Homo sapiens: one gene and its partners. The protein of the gene in region 1 interacts with the protein of each later gene in a pairwise test. Each region holds a gene or a part of one and is shown in the gene's direction. Other genes may lie near its edges.

Evidence for each region. The genes of interacting proteins can lie anywhere in the genome.
Region 2: the proteins of SMAD9 (region 1) and CAMSAP1 interact in a two-hybrid assay, tested with the Homo sapiens proteins (one large-scale study listed by BioGRID and IntAct).
Region 3: the proteins of SMAD9 (region 1) and PPARD interact in a two-hybrid assay, tested with the Homo sapiens proteins (one large-scale study listed by BioGRID and IntAct).
Region 4: the proteins of SMAD9 (region 1) and CXXC5 interact in a two-hybrid assay, tested with the Homo sapiens proteins (one large-scale study listed by BioGRID and IntAct).

Annotation. Positions count from the first base shown.
Region 1 is NC_000013.11:36,874,863-36,879,013, reverse strand, and holds part of SMAD9 (mothers against decapentaplegic homolog 9), read left to right. Parts: intron 1-4,151. UniProt on the Homo sapiens protein: Transcriptional modulator activated by BMP (bone morphogenetic proteins) type 1 receptor kinase. SMAD9 is a receptor-regulated SMAD (R-SMAD).
Region 2 is NC_000009.12:135,820,547-135,824,046, reverse strand, and holds part of CAMSAP1 (calmodulin-regulated spectrin-associated protein 1), read left to right. Parts: intron 1-12; coding exon 13-97; intron 98-786; coding exon 787-3,208; intron 3,209-3,500. UniProt on the Homo sapiens protein: Key microtubule-organizing protein that specifically binds the minus-end of non-centrosomal microtubules and regulates their dynamics and organization. Specifically recognizes growing microtubule minus-ends and stabilizes microtubules.
Region 3 is NC_000006.12:35,412,058-35,415,557, forward strand, and holds part of PPARD (peroxisome proliferator-activated receptor delta), read left to right. Parts: intron 1-3,500. UniProt on the Homo sapiens protein: Ligand-activated transcription factor key mediator of energy metabolism in adipose tissues. Receptor that binds peroxisome proliferators such as hypolipidemic drugs and fatty acids.
Region 4 is NC_000005.10:139,651,349-139,654,848, forward strand, and holds part of CXXC5 (CXXC-type zinc finger protein 5), read left to right. Parts: intron 1-3,500. UniProt on the Homo sapiens protein: May indirectly participate in activation of the NF-kappa-B and MAPK pathways. Acts as a mediator of BMP4-mediated modulation of canonical Wnt signaling activity in neural stem cells.

The DNA of each region.
Region 1 (4,151 bases):
AAAACCCTGTTATAGCCAGTGTGAAGGAATGAAGATAAACTAGTCAGGAAAATCTAGAAAGAAGATATTTTCATTTGATTTCATTATGCTGGTAAGCTTTGTGTGATTTTGAAAATGAGGCAGATGGCTAATCGGAGAAAACTGCCATAAAAGTTTTATTTTGAGGTATCTGGGACAAGTCAACATAATCTTTTACCAGTTCTTGGGGTCCTGAAAGGTTTTAAAATGGCCTTGATAATGATGAGCTGTAAAAATTAAACATCCTCCTCCCCCCGCCCCAAACAACTGAACTGAACTGTACTAAACTGAACTAAGGCAGGGTTTTTGGCTGCTACTTTGTTCAAGTTCAGGTAAGTAGAAGATATCTCATGTCTAGGTCTGAAAACAGCCAATGAAAGAGTTGCTGGAAATCATTCCAGGCAGTTATTTTTAAAAATGGTTTTAAGTACAGACAGGTATCACTTAATGATGGAAATACATTCTGAGAAATGCATCAGTAAGTAATTTCTTCCTTGTGTGAACACCCTGGAGTGTACTTACACAAACCATGAGCCTGCTACACCGTTAGGCTATATGGTGTAGCCTATTGCTCCTAGGCTACTAACCTGCACAGCATGCTACTGTACTAAATACTGTAGGCAATCCTAACCACAATGGTATTGAATGTATATGAACAGATCTAAACATAGAAGAGGTACAGCAAAAGTACAGTATCATAATCTTGGGGGACCACTGTCTTATATTGGTCCCTCAAGCAAAACATGATTACACAGTGCATGATTGTATAGGAAAGTATCTTTCTAAAACCCTTCACACCCCTGTGTGTGTGTGTGTGTGTATGTATATTATATATATGTGTGTAAGAAATATGTATATATTTCCTCCTCCTCTTGGAGAAGCCTGGTGTTTGTCTTTGTTCCTTCACACTGGCTATAACAGGGTTTCACTGTGATTCTCTTAGATTGAGTGTTTCTGTGGCATTTCACACAAGAACACAGTTTTAGGAGAGCTTTCTCTCTTTGGCCATCTGCCTCATCCCAGGAAACCAAAGCGCTGGCACATTAGCTCAGGGAAATTGCCCATGTCCAGTGAAGAGATGGTCCTGTCTACGTAGGCAGGTTCACTTAACCTTAAAACAGTATCCAATAAGTGATTTATGCCCAGCCTACCTCAGTCTTAGCTAAGTGATCCTTCAAGCTCCCAGAACTTAACATCTACCTGTGTGTGGATGCCTCCCACAGCCCATTCAGGGACTGAGGCCCTGGCTGAGAAGGTATTAGAAGGTTCCACATGCTTGGCAAATCTGATGCGTTTCCCCTAAATCCTGGAGCGAGTTGCTTTCCACCCTTCTTCCCTGGTTCATTTTGACTCTTTTCGCTTACTTAAAAAAAAAAGTCAATAATGTCTAAGCTTATAACAAAAATGACTGGATTCCATTTTGTGTTTCAAAGATTTGAATTACATTAAGCATCCAAAATATATCCAAATGGAAAAATGTTCATTAATAAATCATTTCTGTCTTCCTGAATAATGTAGTTGTAAAATTTAACAACTTGTAAGAAATATCTTGTAAAATGTACCTGGTTTTCCTTTTGAATATTCAAAAGCCTAATTTTAAAGAACTATTTGACATTTTAGTTTTTCATGTCTTTTGTTTTTTTGTCTTGCTCTGTTGGCAGGCCGGTGTGCAGTGGCGCAGTCTCTGCTCACTGCAACCGTCACCTCCCCAGTTCAAGCGATTCTCCTGCCTCAGCCTCCTGAGTAGCTGGGACTACAGGCACGTGCCACCATGCCCAGCTACTTTTTGTATTTTTAGTAGAGACGGGGTTTCACCATGTTGGCCAGGATGGTCTCGATCTCTTGACCTCATGATCCACCTGCCTCGTCCTCCCAAAGTGCTGGGATTACAGGCATGAGCCACCATACCTGGCCTTTAGTTTTTCATGTTCTGTAAGATTCTTTTAGGAATGATAGTGTGAGTGTTTTACATATGGTAAATATATTTCATTTTATCATAATTTAGGTGTGAATTTCCAGAAGGAAAGATGGGTAACGATTATATTAATTTAAGGTAATATTTAAGTTACAGAGGTTTTTCTTACTTGTGTTTTTTTAATAGAAAAAGTAGATTTTATATCTAGTTAGCTATCCATATTTAAAGTAAATATTTTAGGAATAATAAAAATGTTAATGTTAAACAAGTTTGCTGAGTTCCTATTTATCATAAAGCTTAAGTTTTGCCTTTGAAATCTCATTTTTTAGCCATCCATTTTAGATACATTGAAGGCTGCATTCCCATTTTCTTTTCATTCACACATCCACTTCAATAATTGACTTCAGTGCTTTCCAAGTTATGTGTGGTGAGGGATCAGTTTTTATTTTTTTAATTTCCAGTCCTTCAAACGAACACTTTTATAGTACAGACAAATTACTAGGCAAATGAAATTTTAAAAAGACTTAGAAAATATAAGCCCAATTTTAAAAATTATTTAAACAAGTGTAAACTAGAAACTCTGTCAAATTGCTGTGAAAAGTTTCTAAGTACTAATTTCTTCACAGACTCGTACCCAACAGTTGGTGAAGGGTCCCCAGTCCTCAGACACACTTTACCTGGCACAGTTCTGGTGGAAGCCATGCAAGACTGTTGTTGTGGTACATGATGATTTTACTCCATTTGGCTGGAGGTTATTTCAGGAGTGTAATTTCTTTTTTATATAAAATATTCATATTATATCAAAACCACATGACTTTTTTTAAAAAGACAGAAGTGTTTTTTTTCCAGCTCTGCTTTGCATGCCCATGTGCCCTGTAACTCCTTCCGCTGTCTCCCCCCGTGTGACACTGAGATGTAAAGATAGCATGGTGTTTAAAAGTGGCATAAGATAGGCATGAGTGTCTGTAAGCGCACTGTCATATTTACAAGCAGCAGTTGAGATGTGGAAGTGGAATTAAGTAATTAGGGATAGCTGTGTTGTGAGTGAAAGTATTTAAAAATATGATCAGTGCACATTTAAGGCAACGGAGCCAGTCAGGTCAAATAACAACTAGGATGAAACTATCAGTTTTCTTTGCAAACATCCACTGGCTTTGATTTTACCCAGATGGTAAAAATATATTATCAAGATAGTTGTTATGATAAAGGGAAATGTATCCTTTCTTTTCTCTTGGTGCCTCAGATCTACAGGCCATGAAGAAATAGAAGTCTCTACATTCAGATGGATAGGAGGCATTATATTTTTATCAGTGTTAGGAATATACCGTAGATATTTTACATTAAAACTGAAGTCACAGAGATGATTCAAATTCTTCTTCATAAAGAAGTGAGTGTTTACTTGAACATCGTTAACATTTTGATGAAGGGTCATTGACAAAGAAGCCATACACATTCGCTGTGTCAACTCCTCACTTCAGACTATTCATGAGGCACATAATCTTTTTTTTTCCTGCATAGTTGTGGAATATGAATACATTAAGGGGAATTTAATGGTTTATGATCCATGTCACTGTTTGATGGTGATGTTGAATGTTTGTTCTCTGGTGTCATAAGGCAGCATACGTATACAATAGCTTAGAAAAGGGGAAGAAATTATTTGTTTCTCTGCCACCCTCACCTGTAGCAGTTTTAGTTTAAAACCTTTTATTTACCCTTCTTAGTTTATTTTCTGTCCATATAACTGAAAATTATTGTTTGTTAAGAAAGAGATAGATGTATGGTGTCAAAGGCAGATGGCAGACTTCGGGGTTAATGTCATTGTTATTGTAATTGTCTGTTTATTCCAAAACATTTACCTTTTTTTAAGACTTTATTTTTTAGAGCAGTTTTAGAACATTTACTTTTTATGAGTTTTTATTAATACTTGCCTGTGGTTGACAAATCAGTGGTGTGATTAGAACCAAGATCTGTCCTATTTATACCCGGAGACAAACTCTTCTAAATAATTCTTGCTTAGTTCTTTCATATTTCTCTCTATTATTACTAAGAATTATGACAGTAACTCTAGATAATATATAATATGCTTACATATCTATTTCCAAATTTATCACCTTTTAGATAATGTCATTGACTCTCTACCATAAAAGATGAGGATTTCACTCACATACATACATACATACATATACATATATATATATGTATTTTTTTTTTTTTTTTT
Region 2 (3,500 bases), on another chromosome or scaffold:
TCTGTACTGCAGATCAGCGACATCGATCGAATTCTTTGACCCGAGTTGATGGTCAGCCTCGAGGAGCAGCAATAGCCTGGCCAGAAAAAAAAACCAGGTGAGTCTGTGTTTCAGCAGTGTTTCTGTTTGGAATGTTTTTTATACTAAACAGCAGTTCTTAAGATGTCACCCCAACCCCCTGAGGATCACCGAGACCCTTTTATAGGGAGTGCCTGAAATCAGAATTATTTTTATAACAACACTAGGAAGTTACTGCCTCTCTGCAGCCTCACTCTTGCGAGTGTGCCGTGGGATTTTTCAGAGGCTGCATACCATGTGGTGTGGCAGCAGGTGGAGTCAGGTATGAGGGTCCAGCCAGATCCCAGAACTATACAGGTGTCAAATAGTGCCTGCCCTTAACACTAGGAACTTCTTCCGTTCTGGCGAATATAGTCATTTGTCATGGAGTGGGCTAATTACTGTAATTTTAATCAGTGTTTAGAAAATGTCTGAGCTTTAATTTGTAGGATGATAAATAGAGATTAATACTGATAAATAGAAACAAAAGCTCTTTGAGGTCCTCAGTAATTTTGAAGGGTATCAAGAGGTCCTGGGACTAGAGTGTTTGAGAATCACAAAGCTGAAATTATCTCTGATTTTCTTCTGCTCTGTGGAAGAGTGAGTTTAAATCTCCTGCATATGAGAGGCGTATTCTCTTTGTGTGGCCGGCATTCTCACCCCCTGGTCCATGTTGGGGGTCTTTGGTGTATACCGCAGCGCACCCAGTGGGCCTTCCCTGTGTTTCAGGCCTGCGTCCCAGCCAACACCTTTTGCTCTACATCACGCTGCGAGTTGTGAAGTGGATCCCAGCTCTGGCGACAGCATCAGCTTGGCCCGCTCCATCAGCAAAGACAGTTTGGCATCCAACATTGTTAATCTGACCCCACAGAACCAGCCACACCCCACGGCCACGAAGAGCCACGGGAAGAGCCTCCTGAGCAATGTCAGTATTGAGGATGAGGAAGAGGAGCTTGTGGCTATTGTTAGAGCAGACGTGGTTCCCCAGCAGGCTGACCCGGAGTTCCCCAGGGCCTCACCCCGGGCCTTAGGCCTTACAGCAAATGCCCGGTCTCCCCAAGGACAGCTGGACACCTCGGAAAGTAAGCCTGACAGTTTTTTCTTGGAGCCTTTGATGCCAGCAGTTCTTAAGCCAGCGAAAGAGAAGCAGGTGATCACCAAGGAGGATGAACGGGGGGAAGGGAGACCGAGGAGCATCGTGTCTAGGAGGCCCAGCGAGGGCCCCCAGCCTTTGGTACGAAGGAAAATGACTGGCAGTCGCGACTTGAATAGGACTTTTACCCCGATTCCATGCTCAGAATTCCCCATGGGCATCGACCCCACCGAGACAGGACCACTGTCAGTGGAAACCGCAGGAGAGGTCTGTGGTGGGCCTCTGGCCCTTGGCGGATTCGATCCGTTCCCCCAGGGACCATCCACGGATGGCTTCTTCCTTCATGTAGGCAGGGCCGATGAAGACACCGAGGGAAGGTTATATGTTAGTTGTTCAAAAAGCCCCAACTCCCACGATTCAGAGCCGTGGACTCTCCTCAGGCAGGATTCTGACTCGGATGTGGTGGACATAGAGGAAGCCGAGCACGATTTCATGGGTGAGGCCCATCCTGTGGTTTTCAGCAGATACATTGGGGAGGAAGAGTCGGCCAAACTGCAGGAGGACATGAAGGTGAAGGAACATGAAGACAAAGATGACGCCAGCGGCCGCTCGAGCCCCTGCCTGAGCACAGCCTCTCAGATGAGCAGTGTCTCCATGGCGAGTGGGAGCGTGAAGATGACCAGCTTTGCGGAGAGGAAGCTCCAGAGACTCAACAGCTGTGAGACCAAGTCCAGCACCAGCAGCTCCCAGAAGACCACGCCAGATGCGTCTGAGAGCTGCCCAGCCCCTCTGACGACGTGGAGGCAGAAGAGGGAGCAGAGTCCGAGCCAGCATGGCAAGGATCCCGCCAGCCTCCTGGCATCTGAGCTGGTACAGCTGCACATGCAGCTGGAGGAGAAGCGCAGGGCCATCGAGGCCCAGAAGAAGAAGATGGAGGCGCTGTCGGCAAGGCAGCGCCTGAAGCTCGGCAAGGCTGCATTCCTGCATGTGGTGAAGAAGGGCAAGGCCGAGGCTGCCCCACCCCTCAGGCCGGAGCACTTTGCAAAGGAGTACTCTCAGCACAACGGGGAGGACTGTGGGGACGCTGTTTCCAAAACCGAAGACTTTCTCGTGAAGGAGGAGCAGAGAGAGGAGCTCCTTCACGAGCCACAGGATGTGGACAAAGAGAGCCTGGCCTTTGCTCAGCAACATAAAGCAAAAGACCCTGTGGCTCTGCACGAGCTGGAGAGAAATAAGGTGATCTCCGCTGCCCTCCTGGAGGACACTGTTGGGGAGGTTGTCGACGTGAATGAATGTGACCTTTCCATCGAGAAGCTTAACGAAACCATCAGTACGCTGCAGCAGGCCATCCTGAAAATCTCTCAGCAGCAAGAGCAGCTTCTGATGAAGTCCCCCACAGTCCCAGTGCCAGGCTCTAAGAATAACTCGCAGGACCACAAAGTGAAGGCACCAGTCCACTTCGTGGAGCCACTCTCTCCCACGGGCGTGGCTGGCCACCGCAAAGCCCCCCGGCTGGGTCAAGGCCGGAATTCCCGTTCCGGAAGGCCGGCGGAGCTGAAGGTCCCAAAAGACAGGCCACAGGGCTCCTCCCGAAGTAAAACCCCAACGCCCAGTGTAGAGACGCTCCCGCACTTGAGACCCTTCCCTGCCAGCAGCCACCCTCGGACGCCCACGGACCCTGGCCTGGACAGTGCCCTGGAGCCCAGTGGTGACCCACATGGGAAGTGTCTCTTCGACAGTTACAGGCTCCATGATGAAAGCAATCAGCGGACACTTACTCTGTCCTCTTCCAAAGATGCCAACATTCTTTCGGAGCAGATGAGCCTCAAAGAAGTTCTGGATGCGAGTGTGAAGGAGGTGGGGTCCAGCTCCTCAGATGTCTCGGGAAAAGAGAGCGTCCCCGTGGAGGAGCCTCTGAGGAGCAGGGCCAGCCTCATTGAAGTGGACCTCTCCGACCTGAAGGCCCCCGACGAGGATGGGGAGCTGGTAAGCCTCGATGGCTCGGCGGACCTTGTCAGCGAAGGCGACCAGAAGCCGGGGGTCGGCTTCTTCTTCAAGGTAAGGGATTGGTAGCATCTGTTTCAGGCACTCGTGATGTGTTGCCACCCCACGTGATAGTGAGTTAGAGAACACAGATCTGCACCAGGCTGGCCAGCCGCTCCTGTAAGAGGCCAGGGGATGTGTGTGTTTAGCTTTGTGGGCCACAGAGTCTCTGTCCCGAGGACTCCACTTGGCCAGAAGCAGTCCCGGGCAATACGCATGCAAGTGAGCGTGGTGTGGCTGAGACGACTTTGTTATGAGCCCTGAAACTGGAATTTCATGTGATTTTCAACATAGTTTTTTTTTTTTT
Region 3 (3,500 bases), on another chromosome or scaffold:
AGCTGGGATTATAGGCGTGCACCACCACGCCCGGCTAATTTTTGTATTTTTTTAGTAAAGATGGGGTTTCACCATGTTGGCCAGGCTGGTCTCGAACCGCTGGGCTCAAGCAATCCACCCACCTCAGCCTCCCAAAGTGCTGGGATTACAAGCAGGAGCCACCGCGCCTGGCCTGATCCCTCTGCTTCTTGCTTTCTCCCACCACTTCTCTCCTTACCCAAGTGCTGCAGGCCTGCACATGCAGCTCATCCTCGCTCCTCCCCTTAGAGGGAACTCAGGGTCATAAGGATATACTGCTGGGAGTAGACACCCTGCACTCGCTGCTGCTTTCAGCTGCAGGAGATCCTAGCCACAGGCGGTGACTCAGGCAGAGGAGCAAGCCCACCCCGCAGAAATGGGCTCTGGACCCCTGTGACTGCATGGAGCAGGAGGAGGCAGTTAGTGTCCAAGCTAAGGCAGGGTGAAGGCTGTGGAGGTAGCGCAGGCTCCTGTTTGGGTCTGCAGCTAAGATGGGTCTGAATCCTGGAGCCACACCACCTTGAACCTGCAAAGCAAGTCCCAGAATTTTGCAGAAGTTCTTCCTCTTCAGTGTATAGAGTTGGGTGGAGGGAGTATAGAGCCATCATTCAGTCCTTCTCATCTCACCCAGGATCACCTGGGAGTGACCAAAGTAGGCCAAATGTGATTCTAGGGCCAAAGTGAAGGTGTCCGCCATTCCCCGAGTAAGCAACTTCCTGTCTATTGGCTGGTAACTGGGATGGCTTTGGAGACACAGCCTGTCTCAGAAGAGAGGAACAGCTAACCAGGAGTGATAATTCACTCAGTGCCAGTAGCACATACTGTTCTAAATCTGAAGAAGGTAGGGAGGGTTAGAAAGCAAAGGGAAGACAGTGGGGACTAAGAATGAGTGTGGGATGTCATGAGGATTCAGGGGAGAATGCAAGGAGAAGAGACGGCCACAGGGTTTGTGGCTATGCCGCCTGCCGTGGCCCACCTCATCCCCACATCTGAGCCCAGGCAGATGGAAGTCCCCTGCAGAGCAGTGTTCTGTCCTGGAGTTTCCTCCACACCCCTTCTTGGGACCAGGGCTGTTTCCCAAATAGCATCACTGTTCCCGTGCAGGCCAGGTGAGGTGCCTGGGAGCAGGGGTAGGGTGAGGCAGGCATGGCGGTGACCTCTCAGGCAGCTTCGTTGTGGGATTTAGGGCACAGCGGGAAACGTCCAGGGCAGAGGTTGCCTCACCAGTCACATGGTACTATGTAGGCGGTGGTGTTTAATAGATTCTGTTTATCAATAAGTGGATGAAGTGGAGATAGACTTCCTTGTTCAGTCATTGAAACAGGAGAGAGGGTTACTTGACATAATCACTTTGTGTTAAAGCTGTAGTGTATGAAAAGTTCCCAAAAATTCTACAAGACAAGCAACCTAGCAGGAAAATCAGAACAGGTAACAGTAAGACAAATACGAATGGCCTGAAATCCCGACAGGTTTTTCAGTCTAACCAACTCAAAGAAAGCACCTTAAGTTGCAATGCCATTTCACCTGTCAGATGGGTGGGGAGGACTTGGTCCTCCCACCACCAGGGGTGAAAGGGTAGTGTGGGCCAACACTTCTTAATGTGTGATTCTTTTTTTTTTTTTTTGAGACAGAGCCTGGCTCTGTCGCTCAGGCTGGAGTGCAGTGGCACACGATCTCAACTCACTGAAACCTCTGCCTCCCGGGCTCAAGCGATTCTCCTGCCTCAGCCTCCCAAGTAGCTGGAATTACAGGCGTGCACCACCGTGCCTGGCTAATTTTTGTATTTTTAGTAGAGATGGGGTTCCACTGTGTTGGCCAGGCTAGTCACGAACTCCTCAGGTGATCCTCCCGCCTCGGCCTCCCAAAGTGTTGGGATTTCAGGTGTGAGCCACCACACCTGGCCAAGTGTGCATTTCTTTTACCCTGCATTCCCACTTCTAGGAACGTGTCCTGTGTAAGTACTTGCTCAGCATGCTCAGAGATTCCCATGCCAGCTTATTTACTGCAGGACTGCTCATAAGAGCAAAAATAGGAACGTGCCCATCTGTGGGGAACTGGTTATGTAAACTGTGGTAGAGCCATATGGTGGAATACTCTGGAGTCATTGAAAAGGATAAGGCTGGTTTATATATATATTAAATAAGTTCCTGACAAGTTGGGGATCCCATTGTTTAAAATCCTTATGTTTCATAGAAGGCACCGGAAGAGTCTATACCGAAGGACTCAGGGGCTAACTCTGAGGAGCAGGATCATGGTTAAGGAGGCTGTGTCATAAGATCCTGCATACCCTTCTGTGTTTTTCTCAACAAGTCTGCACTACTTCCATAATTTGAAAGGCAACTGTACTTTTTTTAAGGGTAAAATTAACTGTTTAAAAGGGGGGTGAGGATCTGGCAGGTGAGGGGCCCTGGAGACAGAGCCTGATCATGTGTCCAGAGCAGAAGGGCTTGGAGATCACAGAGACCAGGGCAGGCATCCCAGGTCTGTCACTGTGAGCTGTAGCCCTCGCCAGTGCCATCACTTCTCCAAGTCTCATTCTCTTCACCTTTATAGGCTGTGTCCTACCCAGCCTGAGGGCCAGCCAGGTGAGAGTCAGTGGGGGTATGTGACACATCGCAGGTCTCAGCACCTGCTAGTTCTCTGCCCCATCCCCATGAGTTATTACTTTGGCCTCGGGAGTCCCCTGAGGGACCCATAAGGACAGCGCACAGCTTTGAGCCCTGAAACAGCAGGAAGGCTCCACAGTCACCCCTGACCACCCTCCTCAGCAGTTCAGCACTGACTCTCAGTGCAGATATTGAGCTCAACACCTGCCATGCACCTTCTCACCCTCCCCCCAGCCAGGCAGGACAGACCTTCCCATCAACAAGGAAACTGAGGTTACCAGAAACCCACTTGCCAGGGTCCCCTGGGCGTGTAGGAGTAGAGACAGCTAGAGCCAGGATTCACCTCCCATTCCCATTCTCATCCCTCCTGCTTCAGTGACATCCATCCCAATCACCCTTGAGAAAGAGGAAGATAAAGTGTCCTTCCTCCTGGCCTCAGCACCTCCTCACTTGGCAAGCACTTGGTGGGCATCAGGCTGGGCCCAGCACTGTGCCCAGGGCTGGCCATACAGTGGTGGACAAGGCTGAGTGCCTGTCCCAAGGAGCCCACAGTTCAGGCAAACAGGACAGCAGAAGTAAAGAGGCTGCTCAGTAACCCAGCCTCAAATCCCTGCAGAATTTGGCCTGACTTCAGAAGCTGCTGGGTGCTTGTTTGCCTGTGAGCTCTGCCAGCAAAGTAAATAGACCAATCGGGCGCCTCCTGGCTGTCTTCACAGCCATGACAACGGCATTCTCCCAGCATTGGAGGCTAGATATGCAGGAGAGCTCTCAGCCACAAATGATGTGAATAAGGTCAATAGTGTCTATTTGCTGAACTTGTCATCAAAGATGGTGAAACTGATACTTTACTCTCTGGGTGAGAGGGCTAGTGTTTAC
Region 4 (3,500 bases), on another chromosome or scaffold:
TGAGGCCTGGAATGTCCACCCAGCTGGGCTAGGCTGGGCTGGGCTGGGCTGGGGTGGGTGGGGGAAGGGGAGGGGAGGATTCTGCATCCAGGGCACCGGCCAGCACAGGCCCATGTTCCATGGGTTCCCACTGTGACCCTCAACTCTTGCTGCCCCTTTCCTGCTCTGCCTGCCTCCTACTCATTTGGCACATGTGAAACTGAGACCCATAGGAGTGTGGGGGCAGGCTTGTATCTGGGTGAAGAAACAAGTCCAGGGGAATGAAATACCCTGCCTTCTTCAGGACTGACTGCACCTTGTTGTTTATGGGAGGATGGAGTGGAGGGAGTCTTGCTAGGAGGGAGAGAGGGATGTGGGCTGGGCTGACTTTCCAGGTTGCAGGATAGGGTGGAGGAATGAGGGAATACGGGTGAGCCAGACCCAAGCCTGGGTTCCTAGAGCCCCTGTCTGGTGGCTTGATCATTTAGTCCGAATTAACAAGCATGATGCTCTGGGGCATGCCCTAATTGAACAAGAATGGGGGGGTTCACACATTGTTATTACGTTACTATTGCCCACTCTTTATATGTTATTCATTTGTTGGCCCAATATGTTTGTATTGAGCACCTACTGTGTATCAAACCCCACCCTTCTGGTGGTACACAAATGAATCACTGCTCCAGCTCTGGAGGCAGGCCCAGGATAGAAGCTCCGCCCCGTTTCCCCGCCCCCTGGGGCCCTGATTGGGGCTTTCCCTCTTTTCTTTTTTCTGGGGCTCTCCCTCTCTTACCCCCACCACCTGGTCCCATCCTAGCCGCCGGCGCGCGCGCGCGCGCGCGCGCGCGTGTGTGTGTGTGTGTGTGTGTGTGGCTGTGTATGTGTGTGTGAAGTGTCCTTGATTAAGTGTATTAATAGTTAAACTCTCACTCATAGCTGGAACTCACCAGACCACAAAAAGCCTCCCCCGTTACTCACGCGCTACTGCCCAACAAGAATATCCCACTAAAGTTTTTTTCTGCTTTCTCTTACTTCCCCCTCACCTCCCCCCAACGCTGAGCCCACCCTTCCTGGATTCGAGCAATGAGAAAGGACTGCCCCCTAAAGACCCAGGAATCTCCAACCCTCCACCTGCCCCCTAAAGCCAGAGGCAGTGTCAGCTGACAGAGATGAGGCTGTGTGGGCACTAGTCTGTTGTTCTGGGATGTGGGAATCTGGGTGATGTGTGCTTATGACTCAGGACATGTGTGTCTCTAAGTAGTGTATCTATATCTGTGAATCTCTGTGTTGAATGTCTGTCTCAGGGTGTGGGAGTCTGAACATACATGGATTTATGAATCAGGGCATGTATATTTGTCCTGATCTAGAAGTGTGTGGATCTGTAGTGTATGTGTACATGTGTGTTTGTGAATCTGAGATTGTATTTCTGAAGATTGGCTATGTCCCTGTGAATCTGGGAATGAATATATTCTGTGAGCTGTGTGTGCTTGGAATTTTGGAGAGTTTGGATTTGTGATTTGTGTGTATCTGTGTGCTTTGTATATGCTTATAAATCTGGGGGATCTGACTCTGAGTAGAGTGTGTCTGAATTGTGAATGTGGGAGTGGGCCTGTCTGTGCTGTATGGACAGTGGTTTCTCTCTGTCTGTGGTGGCGGCTGGCTATGTTTTCCTTTCTCTTTCTGTATCTCCGTCTTACTGAATCTCCCCCTCTGGTTGTTTGAGGCCCTGAATGTGTGTGTAGCATGGAGTGTGTGTGTGTAGAACTGAACCTCTCACACCCAGTCCTTCCCCCTGCAACCCCTACACCCCTTCCCTCCCCAGCAGTAACTGGGCAGCCTCCCCGTCTGCCTGCCTGCTGGGAGTTTTGGAAGCCGCAGAGGGAGACAGGCTGGGGCTGGGGTGACAGCGTGTATCCACGGCAATGGTAGCATGTGATTACGGGAATAAAAGGATTTTAAGGTCATGGGTGGGTTTTCTGGAGGGAGGGGGTTGTGCCCCCACAACCCACCATTTGGTGGAGCCAGTGGCAGCAAAGGGCCAGCCTGTGTGTCTCCATGCTGGGAAGCCTGCCCCTATGCAGGTGAATGTGGATATGTGGGGCTTACCTGGGAGTGTGAGCACATGCTTGCACATGTATGAACGGAGCCTGTGAGAGCATGTGTGTCTGGCTGCCAGATCCCCAGATGAGAGTCCATAGGCTTGTTCCCTGGGGGAGGATTCCCAGGAAAACTTCTTGCTTCTGGGTATTACATGGAGCTGGAACCCCACAGTCCTCTGTATGTTGAGAAGCAGTCTGGTCCCAACCTTTCCCTGTACCCATACTCCCAACCCCAAGTCTAGTGTCTCTGGCCAGAGACTGACTGGGCCAAGTCACCTGGGCCAGGCCACATCTTGGGGTGTCAGTGCCCTGGCCCCGCTCCAGCCCCTGTAATTGCATTCTGCCGCCTAATCCCCCGCCAGCTCAATTAGATCGCAAATTCTTCTTCATTTCCTGCCTCTGATGCTGGCCTCCCTCTGGGCTCACAGGGCCTAGGAGGGAGGGAGGGGATCCTGCCCCGCCTTCCACAGCACTAGGGGCTCTAGAGAGGTGATTAGTTCCAGGCACACTGGCCCCAGAGCACAGGTTAGAACCCTGGGGACCAACAAGACAGGGCTCCACTGGCCCTTTTTGGGTCAGCCTCAGTATCCTCACACTAGGGCAGGGCTGGTGTTACCTGGTATGGGGGCTCTGGGTAGACCAAGCAGATCACTCTAGCCAGGACCCTAGCTTGTACCCTCACCTGGGGCTCCTACAGGCTCTGCCCCTCTCCCATCCTCAAAGCAGTTGCCATCTCCCCAACCCCCCACGGCAGTTGTGACCTTGTTTTTGACCTTTTCTGGGTGTCCCTTGTCAGAGCCAATTGAACCACTGAGCTCCACTGCTACCGGCTCCTCCTAACCTCCACCCAGACAAGTGTGTATGAGCAGTGGCTCTAGAGTCCATCAGATCTGACTCCAAATCCTGGACATGTCACTGCCTAGCTGGATGTGTGACATTTGGGCCAGTTGTGTTATCTCTACAAACCTCAGTTTCCTAATCTCTGAAATTGGACGGTAAGAGAATGCCTGCCTCACAAGGTCATTTTCAGATGGACACAGATGGTTGCATAGTGCCTGGCAGGGAGAGGTGCTCACCTACAATCTGTATTCAGTAAACACTGGCTTTTATAGAGACAAGGAATGCATGTCCCCCGTGAATCCTAAGAAAATAACATGTGGCTCACACCTCGCACTTCTGTCTCCATTCAGCTGATTACCAGGTGTGTGACCGTGGGTGCATCACTTTGTCTGACTTTCTCTTCCTCATCTGTAAAATGGGACTGATAATAGGACAGACCCCATGGGGCACATGGTAGCCTTCTCTGAGATGATGTGTGCAGATGCTTGGCCTCAGTATGTTTTCAAGGTGTTACTTGCCTTCTTTCTTTCCTCACCCCAAGCCTAGGGTGGGGTAGAGCTGGTGAAGACACAGGCTCAGGGACAA